2 linked regions of the Homo sapiens genome follow. The protein of the gene in region 1 purifies or fractionates together with the protein of each later gene. This does not show direct contact. Each region holds a gene or a part of one and is shown on either strand. Other genes may lie near its edges.

The links. The genes of interacting proteins can lie anywhere in the genome.
Region 2: the proteins of COL9A1 (region 1) and PPP1R12C purify together in Homo sapiens (affinity purification with mass spectrometry; 3 studies listed by BioGRID and IntAct, with this or other methods). This does not show direct contact.

The regions. Positions count from the first base shown.
Region 1 is NC_000006.12:70,216,047-70,223,096, reverse strand, and holds the end of COL9A1 (collagen alpha-1(IX) chain isoform 1 precursor), read left to right. Parts: intron 1-6,015; coding exon 6,016-6,200; 3' UTR 6,201-6,971; downstream 6,972-7,050. UniProt on the Homo sapiens protein: Structural component of hyaline cartilage and vitreous of the eye.
Region 2 is NC_000019.10:55,090,368-55,093,637, reverse strand, and holds the end of PPP1R12C (protein phosphatase 1 regulatory subunit 12C), read left to right. Parts: intron 1-404; coding exon 405-485; intron 486-561; coding exon 562-622; intron 623-769; coding exon 770-855; intron 856-975; coding exon 976-1,016; intron 1,017-1,093; coding exon 1,094-1,196; intron 1,197-1,311; coding exon 1,312-1,416; intron 1,417-1,728; coding exon 1,729-1,779; intron 1,780-1,937; coding exon 1,938-1,988; intron 1,989-2,079; coding exon 2,080-2,166; 3' UTR 2,167-2,720; downstream 2,721-3,270. UniProt on the Homo sapiens protein: Regulates myosin phosphatase activity.

The DNA.
Region 1 (7,050 bases):
TCCCTCCATGAAAGTCTACTTCAACTCCAAATCACAAATGCGAAGTACTGGGTAGCAGTACATCTTTTCACTGGTTAATTGTCCACTGAGGCTATACTGCTTTTTATTTCTTGGTAGAGCTTGAATGTGACTAGGAATGTGATTTCTGATCTCTCAAAAACATAATATTAATAGGACTTTAAGGCCTGATGAAACTTCAAAAGGATTCTGTGCAGTAATTTGTCTGGAACCGTCTAGATAAAAAAATTCTTTTCTTACCTAAAATAAAGAAACTGCAGAACAGCATAGTCTGCAACCTTCTTTGTTGTTCCTGTTGTTGGATTTGGGGCTCAAATCCTCCTGAATAAAAAAAAAAAAGATAGTTGGATCATTCTTTGTGCTAAGGCATTTAACATATTTTTAACGATGTAACTAATATCATCATTTTCTATCGGTTGTTAGAGTTCCTGTATTCTTTCTGGACAGTTTTAGTTCCCTGTCTCCCCTCTCCAATGCTGTATCTCTGTTTGTTCAGTGTTAAGTATTACATGCCCTGCAGGGACATAATGCTCATTGCTTGTTATGGAACACAGGTTATTATTATAACCTTTACATTGATGATCATTTTGGCTACAGTGCTTTGTTGTTTAAAAAGTACACATGCACAATCTAGTTTGTTTCTCACAGCCAGGAGTAGGCTGGGTGAATATTTAAGAAGTGCAGACATGGAGCCAGGCTGCCAGGGCTTATGCACTATTCTTTTACCTTGAAGTGCTTCAGTTTCCTCTTCAGTGAATGGGAATCACTATGCCTACCTTGTATTTAGAGCATATATGCACATGTTAATACATGTAAAGCTCTTGGAACAGTGCCTGGCATATGGCAAACAGACACTCTGACATTATTTAGTGAAATTTAACTGTTATTATTGTTGCTCCCTTTTTTTATAATATATTTGAGAAAATACAGACTCTTAAATTCATGTCCTGACAAAAGTCTGTCAGGTAATAACAAGACAGATATTCATGCTTCCTGAGTCTATGTTCCCAAAGTGGACAGAATGATTGGCTGGCTGTCTAATCATACGATTAGTTTTTCTTTGCAACCTAGACATGTGAATTGAGCATGTCCCATAATTGCTGAGTGTCTCGCTTCTTTCTCTGCCTCTCTTGCAGAGCTACGTGGATCACATTAGCAATCCCTGGAACTTTAGTCTCCCCCGCCTTCAGTTTTGTGCCACAGGTCAGCTAGTGTTATTGCTTGGTCGGTTGTCTCAAAGACTCTCTCTGCTGCCACCAAACTTGCCCATTGGGACTAGTTCCTCGTCACTCTGAGAATTTTAAAGGAACATATTTATTAATAATAAAGAGTCCTGACTTCCTCTTTGTGCACTCACTAGGGCAAAACATAAATTAAATGACAAATCATTTGAATGTGAACACTAGGAAGGTGACTTGTGAGCTAAGGTGCTTTTTGCCTCTTGGACATGGAAGTTGTAGCTGGCTTTGTGCTGGACTATGCTAGGTTATAAGAGTATTTGGTTTTCTTGTGCAAAGTCCACAGAAAGGTGAGCTTTGCTTGAGACTATTGAGTGGAAAAATACACACGCACACATTCAGTTCTGGGCTAAGTTTTTCAGTACCTAATTTTTCCATTTCCATTGCTGCAGCTGTTTTATTTGGTTGCTGGGCCTTACATAAACCAGTTTATAATTCCTTAAACATATACTGCTTTGTCAAATACCACAACATTAAGCTCAAGAAATATAAGAAACTCCTGGTACATACAAAAAGTCTACATAACCAGTGGATTAATTATGAAATACCCTATTTAATGTGAAAATTATTCACTTTTTTTGTTTTGACTGTATACACAGTCCCTTTTACGCCACAGCATGTATTAGGTGAGGGGCTGCCTCCAGAATGATCCAGCCGAGATGGGCTTCCATCAGTGTAACATGACTACCCTCTAGTGGTTTTATAGAGAATGACATAGCTATTCATTTGTTTAAAAAAAAAACGTTTAGCAATAATTTTAAATATTTTATTTTATTTTAATTGACATATAATAGTTATACATATTTATGGGATATGTAGTAATGTTTCAATAGAAATATTACATAATGACCAGATTAGGGTAATTAGTATATCCATCATCTCAAACATTTATCATTTCTTTGTATTGGGAATATTCAACATATTTATAGGTCCTTGACATTTCAGAAAACCATGTAATCATTAGGCAGTTAGTGTAAGTAATACACACATGAGGCAGGCAGAGCAGAATAACACTTTAGATGCATGTTTTCTCTTTCTGAAGAGTTACAAAGCAGTTGATAGATATTCATGAATGTAGCTGCTGGGCTAACCATTTATGCCCATTTTGTGAACCGTTATTATGAGTCAGCTTCACTTTTTGAGTGATGTGGACTGTGGACATAGTGTCACCCAACTGAGGCTCCCACATAGTTTAGAACATACATGAGAGCAAAGGCCCTGGGTCAGGGCTTTCCAGAGCCTGACAATCTGCTATGTTAAGGCTGTTTTTTTTTCTCTGGTATTTCTACAGGGCAAAACCTCAGAGAAATATCTTAGTTTCTTATGATCATTAGAGCTCTGCAAAAGTCAATACTGTGCTTTGTTTTTGTACCTCTGTCTACTTCCTGGTCAACTCAGGCCCAAGGAATTAAAAAAAATGACCACACACACACACACACACACACACACACCCTGCCACACCCCTCCACACCCTTCCACAGAGTTAAAAAAATCAATAGGTAGGAAAATACAGTTAGTGCAGTGGTTAAGGGTCCTCATTTCTGGCTATATGACTATGGACAATTATTTGACCTTCCTAACTCTCAGTTTATGCATGAGAAAAATGGGCTCAATAATGAGCATAGTGTATGCCCATGGAAAAGAGAAAGCATTCTCATTAAGCATTTGTGGTGATGATGATGATGATGATGATGATGATGACATCATCAAAAGCTCCAAAGGGTAAATTGCTGCATTTGCCAAAGGCAGAACTGGATGAGATGCATGCTTCATAAAATAAATCAAGGGTAGACAGGATGGCTTCATCGACTCTTCCTTCAGAGGATAAGCAGCAATTTGGAATAAACTCAGCAAGGTAAAAAAGAAAAAGAAAAACTTCTCCTGAAGTGTGTTGATGGGGAACCAAATGTGAAAATCTAAAAAGCTATCCTTCTGCTTTTTAATATTGTTAGTGTATTAGAGAATAAATTACTTAAAACTTAAGGTTTTTGGCTGGCTCTACAAATGTTGAAAAAAATTTGAATTAGTTGCTAACATTTAAACATTGGGAGATATTTATTTAAAGACTCAGCTTCCTGGCCTCTCTTGAAAATTATCAGAAGTTCTGGCAACACTGGCCTGTATTCCCCGATGACAGCTGTTAGCTGGAGAAGAGCTGCTGCCCGCATCCACTTTCCAGCTCACCACAGGCCTCACTCCTCCCTTTGGTCTCCCCAACACTTACGTGGAATATTAGTGGCCAAATTTCATTGCATTTGTACTTTACGTTTTCATCTGGTAAAAACAGTGGGGGAATTTCTTAATCCAGGCTTGTTTCTTTATAACATCAGGGATCAGCAAACTTTATTTGTGAAGGATCAGATTATTTGGCTATGGGCACCATATTGCAGCTATTTAACTCTGCCCTGGTACGCCAAAGCAGCCACAGACAATATGTAAACAAATGACCATGGTCGTGTTCTAATAAAACTACAAAAACAAGATTTAGCTCATGAGCTGAAGTTTGCCCACCCCTGATCTCAATGACCATCCCAGCCCCTGTGCTCATTTGGTTTTCTACCTCTTCTTTGGGCATTTCCTTCTCCTAAACTTGATTTGATTTTAAGGCACACCTGGTATGTCTCAGTGGGAACATTCCTAGTGATAAGGTGCATGAAAATCGGATTTAGATCTGGCTCATCTTTTAAACCTTAAAAAAATCAACTTCACCTTTAACTGCATCTGGTGTTAAGGATCTTAACAGGTGCTGCTAAGGGCATAGTTCTGCTACAGCTTTATCTATAGATGCTGTGGATTAGGGAGAAGCTTTCTCAGGGACCTCATCATTAAAAGAAAACACATAATGATCTGCTTCATACTTACTAGGTATAGTTGAATGAAAGTATATGGGATAAATTAGGGAAAATTACTTATATCTCTGCTTATCTATAGCTTTGAGATGGATAAATTCAAAGATAATTATTCTCCCTTAAAACTTATTAATATATTGCCCTATGACATTGCTTTGTGTGGATCGAAGTGTATGCACCAGAGGAAGAATGAGATGTTATGTAAAGCAGGATCTCTAACCTACCTTCCTTCTAAAAATATGTGAGATATATATGAATAAGACCATATTACTACAGTAAGACCAACAAAAGACATATAAAAAGACAACTGAAATAGAAAAAGAAAAGTAAAAACCACAGAGAAAGAAGGAGAGTAACCAAATATAAGCAAATATGTAGTTGAACATGTAGATTTGGCTTCCGGCTTTTTGGCTGAAAGACCAGGTTAAGATGGCTGAGATGGAATGAGGATCCCTATATTATTTTGGCATACACAATTTGTTTTACACTGACTTCTCATCACCACTTTTGCAATAATTGTGTGAAAGTGCTGCTAGTGCACTGGGGTAAACATTCAGCAGAAATTCCTCTTTGTTATGGGGTGCTGTGCCTCAGAGAGTGTGCCCCATTGAGGGCAACATACAACCCTTAAACACGACAAAAGGAAGACAAGCAAGAAATGTCCCCCAGAGAACCTGCTATTGCAAAGTTCATGTTGGGGTCAGCCCTTCATGAGAAAAATATGAAAATTTGTAGGGCACATGGCACAGCCTTCTAAAAGACATTAATCAATAATATCTTAATAATTGTAATAATAGCCCCTATTTATCAGGTGCTTCCAATTGTAGAATTATTATTATTATTATTTTTAAGACGAAGTCTTGTTCTATCGCCCAGGCTGGAGTGCAGTGGCGCGATCTCGGCTCACTGCAACCTCTGCCTCCCGGGTGCAAGTAATTCTCCTGCCTCAGCCTCCTGAGTAGCTAGGACTACAGGCATACACCACCATACCTGGCTAATTTTTTTGTATTTTTAGTAGAAATGAGGTTTCACCATTTTGGCCAGGCTGATCTCAAACTCCTGACCTCAGGTGATCTGCCCACCTTGGCTTCCCAAAGTGCTGGGATTACAGGCATGAGCCACTGCACCTGGCCTGAATTTAATTATTAGGAAGACATTATCCCATCTTGTAGATGAAGAAACTGAGAGATTAGTGACTTGCTAATGTCACATTTTTCATAAATGATAGGGCTAGAATGTAAAGCTATTTGTCTCCAAAACCTGTGTTTTTAACCGCTAAACTATACTTCTCCCTGCCCGGATGTTGCTCAACTCTTAGAAGTAAGGAATACTGCTACTTGCATTCAAAAGAAATATAATGTGAGCCACAAATGTGAGTTGCATGTATGATTTTAAATCAAGTAGCCACATGAAAAAGGTAAAAATAATCAAGTGACATTAATTTTAATAATATAGTTTACTTAACCCACTGTGTGCAAAAGATCATTTCATCATGTAATAGACACAAAAATTATTAATGAACTATTTTACATTTTTTCATATCAAGTCTTTAAAATCCAGGTGTGTTTGATCCTTAGTTCATCTCCATTTGGCCTCATCACATTTCAGCTCTCAATAGGCACCTGTGGCTGGAGGCTACCATGGTGCACGGTGCAGCTCTACTGATGGAAATGGGGGTTAGAGACACTGAGGTCTCTTTCTGCTTTTAATTTCCATGAAAACCCAAGTCCAAGGAAGGGATCTTATTATCATCATCATCATCATCATCACCAATCATCACCAGTCATCATCCATCGCTTCCAAAAGCGTTTGTTAAACCCCTTATCTGAGCGCTGCTGAGCCATGCCCTCTGCCAGTTTGCATCAATGAGGATTCTCCTGTTCACATGTGCAATCTTCTGTGTGTTTCAGGTGACCCAGGCCCTGCCAGCTATGGCAGAAATGGCCGAGACGGTGAGCGAGGCCCCCCAGGGGTGGCAGGAATTCCTGGAGTGCCTGGACCCCCGGGACCTCCTGGGCTTCCCGGTTTCTGTGAGCCAGCCTCCTGCACCATGCAGGCTGGTCAGCGAGCATTTAACAAAGGGCCTGACCCTTGAAAGGCTTACTGCTGCATGGCTGTCTGCATGAACCACGCCTGGTGAAGGAGCCTGGGTGAGAAACACCATCCAAAGCTGGGGCAAAGATGATTACCTTCAGCATGATTACAATGTATTACCTTCAGTATGATTACAGAAGTCCTACTTGACAATCACATATAGAAGAACGGTGCTATTCAGTAAGTTCTCTTTCCTTTCCCTTGGAGGGAAGACAGCAGAGTCATCAGTTAAAAAAAAAAAAAGAAAACCAAACACCTCCCTTGAATAAATTTATACTCCTGTTCCCAGGATCTTGAGCTTTAGTGTGCTATACCTATGTGTCTTATCGTGGGCCACTGTGCCAATAAACAAAAACAACTGTTTGGTTTACCTCAGTTGCAGTAGTTATTTTCATTTAGAAGTTGTTCTCAGATTATTGTTTCAGTTATATAGAGGATTACTAGACTAGTTATGAAGAAACCCCACTACATTCAATGGAATTGGTGCTTAAAATCTCATCGATGTGCTGTCTCTGGAGTGATAAGAAAGGGCTACATCTCCCGAAATGATTTCTTTACGTCATGTATTGGTTTCCTTCTTCACCTTGAACTTTTGTTGAACTGTATGTACTTTACCCCAAACCTGTTAATATTTTGAGCGCTTCTATGTGAAAGCAAAGAAATAATTTTAATACTCTGGCATTCATAAATTTTATTGATGAGATTATTTATTTTAAAGGTTTGAGGTAACATCTCTGGTTGTACCAAAGAAGAAATAAATATGGTTTCTTAATCTCTTGCATGTTTTCTTATAAATAATCATGTTCAATGAAAAGAAGTTACTGAGCTTATTTAGATACATTAAACATTAC
Region 2 (3,270 bases), on another chromosome or scaffold:
CTGGGCTCCTGGGTCTGAGGGAGGAGGGGCTGGAGGTCTGGACTCCTGGGTCTGAGGGAGGAGGGGCTGGGGCCTGGGCTCCTGGGTCTGAGGGAGGAGGGGCTGGAGGTCTGGACTCCTGGGTCTGAGGGAGGAGGGGCTGGGGCCTGGACTCCTGGGTCTGAGGGAGGAGGGGCTGGAGGTCTGGACTCCTGGGTCTGAGGGAGGAGGGGCTGGGGCCTGGACTCCTGGGTCTGAGGGAGGAGGGGCTGGAGGTCTGGACTCCTGGGTCTGAGGGAGGAGGGGCTGGGGTCTGGGCTCCTGGGTCTGAGGGAGGAGGGGCTGGGGCCTGGGCTCCTGGGTCTGAGGGAGGAGGGGCTGGGCCCTGACCCCAGCGTCCCCTGACTGTCCCCTTTCCCTGCCAGGGTGTGACTCTTACAGACCTGAAGGAGGCAGAGAAGGCTGCAGGGAAGGCCCCAGAGTCAGAGAAGCCGGCGCAGAGCCTGGTGAGAGGGGTCAGCGAGGGCGAGTGGGGTGGTGCGGGATGTCCTGCTTCCCTGACTCGCCTCCCCCTCCCGACAGGACCCTTCCCGAAGGCCCCGCGTCCCTGGAGTGGAGAACTCTGACAGCCCTGCCCAGAGAGGTGAGGTCTGCTCTCGGGGAGGTCATTCCCAGGGAATCATCCAGTTTCTCCCATAGTCTTCTTGCTTTCCTGGGGGCTTGACCCGGGGACCCAGGCACCGAGAGGGGGCTCTGGAGGTGCCTGGGCTGATTCCTGCCCCTCCCCCAGCAGAGGCGCCCGACGGGCAGGGTCCGGGACCGCAGGCGGCCAGGGAGCACCGCAAGGTCGGAAAGGAGTGGAGGGGGCCTGCGGAGGTGAGGGGCTCAGGTGGGGCCGAGCTGGTGCAGAGGGTGGGCCGGGGGGCGGGCAAAGCCCTTCCCATACCCGCTAAAGTCCCTCCCATACCCATTGAACCCCCGTCTACCTGCCCACAGGGGGAGGAGGCGGAGCCGGCTGACCGCAGCCAGGAGTCCAGGTAGGGGCGGGGTGGGAGAGGTGGGGTCTGCGTGCGGGCCGGGCCGGCCCCTGACGCGCGCTCCTCCCCTGCCCCAGCACCCTGGAGGGCGGCCCCTCGGCCCGCAGGCAGCGGTGGCAGCGGGACCTCAACCCAGAACCTGAGCCAGAATCGGAAGAGCCAGACGGAGGCTTTAGGACGGTGCGATCCCACCCCTCCGTCGGGGCTTTGCCTGCTGGGTGCCCAGCTTCCTGGCTTCCCCGCCCCCCCAGCATCGCCCCATCCTCCACCTGACCCTCCTCTACCTGACCCCCAGCTGTATGCAGAGCTGCGCAGGGAGAACGAGCGGCTTCGCGAGGCCCTGACCGAGACCACGCTGCGGCTGGCGCAGCTCAAGGTGGAGCTGGAGCGGGCCACGCAGGTAAGGGCGCCGAGGCCAGGGTCACGGGAACTGGCAGGGCCGCCTGGGTGGGGCTTAGACTGCTGGGAGGTAGAGCCTGGCCTGGGGGTGCCGGCGGGGCTGGGCTTCACTTGAGGGGCGGGGCCGAGATCTCGGAGGCGGAGTCTGAGCGAGGGGATGGGGCTGTGGGCCTGCCGGTGGCGGGGCCTGGCCCGTGGGGGAAGGGCTTGTGGGCTGCCTAGTGGGCGGGCGGGTGCCCAGCAGGAGCCTAGGACCCTTCAGAGCAGTGCTGGCTTCTTCTGCTGACCCCTGTGCTTTCTGTGTCCTCACCAGAGGCAAGAACGCTTCGCTGAGAGGCCAGCCCTCCTGGAACTGGAGAGATTCGTGAGTAGGGGCAGTGGGGATGGGGGCCAGAGGCGTCCCCAGCCTCACATCCCTAAGTTTGGACCAAGGGAGCCACATTGCCCTTCCCAGCTGGCCCCTGGCCTTCCCCTGCCCTCCTCAGCCTCACTCAGTTTCTGCACTTTCCCTGTTCATTCCAGGAGCGCAGGGCCCTGGAACGCAAGGCCGCAGAGCTGGAGGAGGAGCTGAAGGTGGGGGCTGTGGGGGCTGTGGGCAGAGGGCCGAGGGTGGGTGGGGGTGCAACCCGCCAGGGCTGCCCAGCTGACCCTTGCCGTCCCCCAGGCCCTGTCTGACCTCCGCGCTGACAACCAGCGCCTCAAGGATGAGAATGCAGCGTTGATCCGCGTCATCAGCAAACTCTCCAAGTGACCCGGAGGGACTTTCCCGCACCCGTATTTATACAGCTGCTTCTGCCACACGCACCCCTTCCCCCGTGTGAACACGAGTGACAGGGCTCCGGGGGAAGTCTCAGAGAAGCCATAGCCCCCCTGGGACCTCCGGACTGGGAGGGGAGCAGAGTCCCCAGGAGCCGAGGGGGCCACCCGAGGCCAGGATGGAGGTGGGAGGCCGAGCCAAGCAGGGGGACGTTGCCAGAGGGGACCAGGGCCAGAGACGGGACCAGGAAGGAACTGAGGACCAAGAAGTGCAAGGATCAGTAGCCAGGACCAGAGTGGCCGCCTGGAGGTCCCCATCTCACGTGTGATGCCACCCCGTCACCCCTCCCCTCCTGAGCAGGGATCCAAGAATGTGCCAAGAGTCCCGCCAGCCTCAGCCAGGTGGGCCTGTATATAGGGTCCATGTGCAATAGGGAGGGACGTCTTCTATTTTTTGCTGCCCCCTCCCCGCCCACTGTCTGGGGCAGGGGGAGAAGGTATTTTCGAGATAAAGCACAGGCACCACAAATAAAAGTCGTGAAGTTGCCACTCAAGCTCTGTGTTCCCAGCCAGAGGGAGGGCACTGTTTCCTGCTCCTGCTGGGGGGCCGTGCGTGTCCATGACCAAACCACTGGGCCACTTGGGTGGGTGCCGGGGGATGGGCTGGTGCTTACTCACCTGTGTGGTGAAGGAGCTTCAGGATGAGCCCCCAGCGGGAGCGAAGGCTCCAAGACGGAGCCCGCGTGATCGCAGGCGGGGGGCTGAGGGGAAGCTGATGGGGCAGGAGGGATCAGCGGGCAAGACCTCTGGGGCCAAGGATGTGGAGCTGGGGAGTTTGGGTTTTGCCATCAGTGTCTTTGAAACAAATTTAGTCAATTGCCAACATTTAACATTTGGAGAAATTTGTGTGTAAAAATCTGGAATTTTGGCCGGGTGTGGTGGCTCACGCCTGTAATCCCAGCACTTTGGGAGGCCGAGGCGGGCAGATCATTTGAGGTCAGGAGTTCGAGACCAGCCTGGCCAACATGGTGAAACCCCTTCTTTACTAAAAATGCAAAAATTAGCAGGCGTGGTGGTAGGTGCCTGTAATCGCATCTAC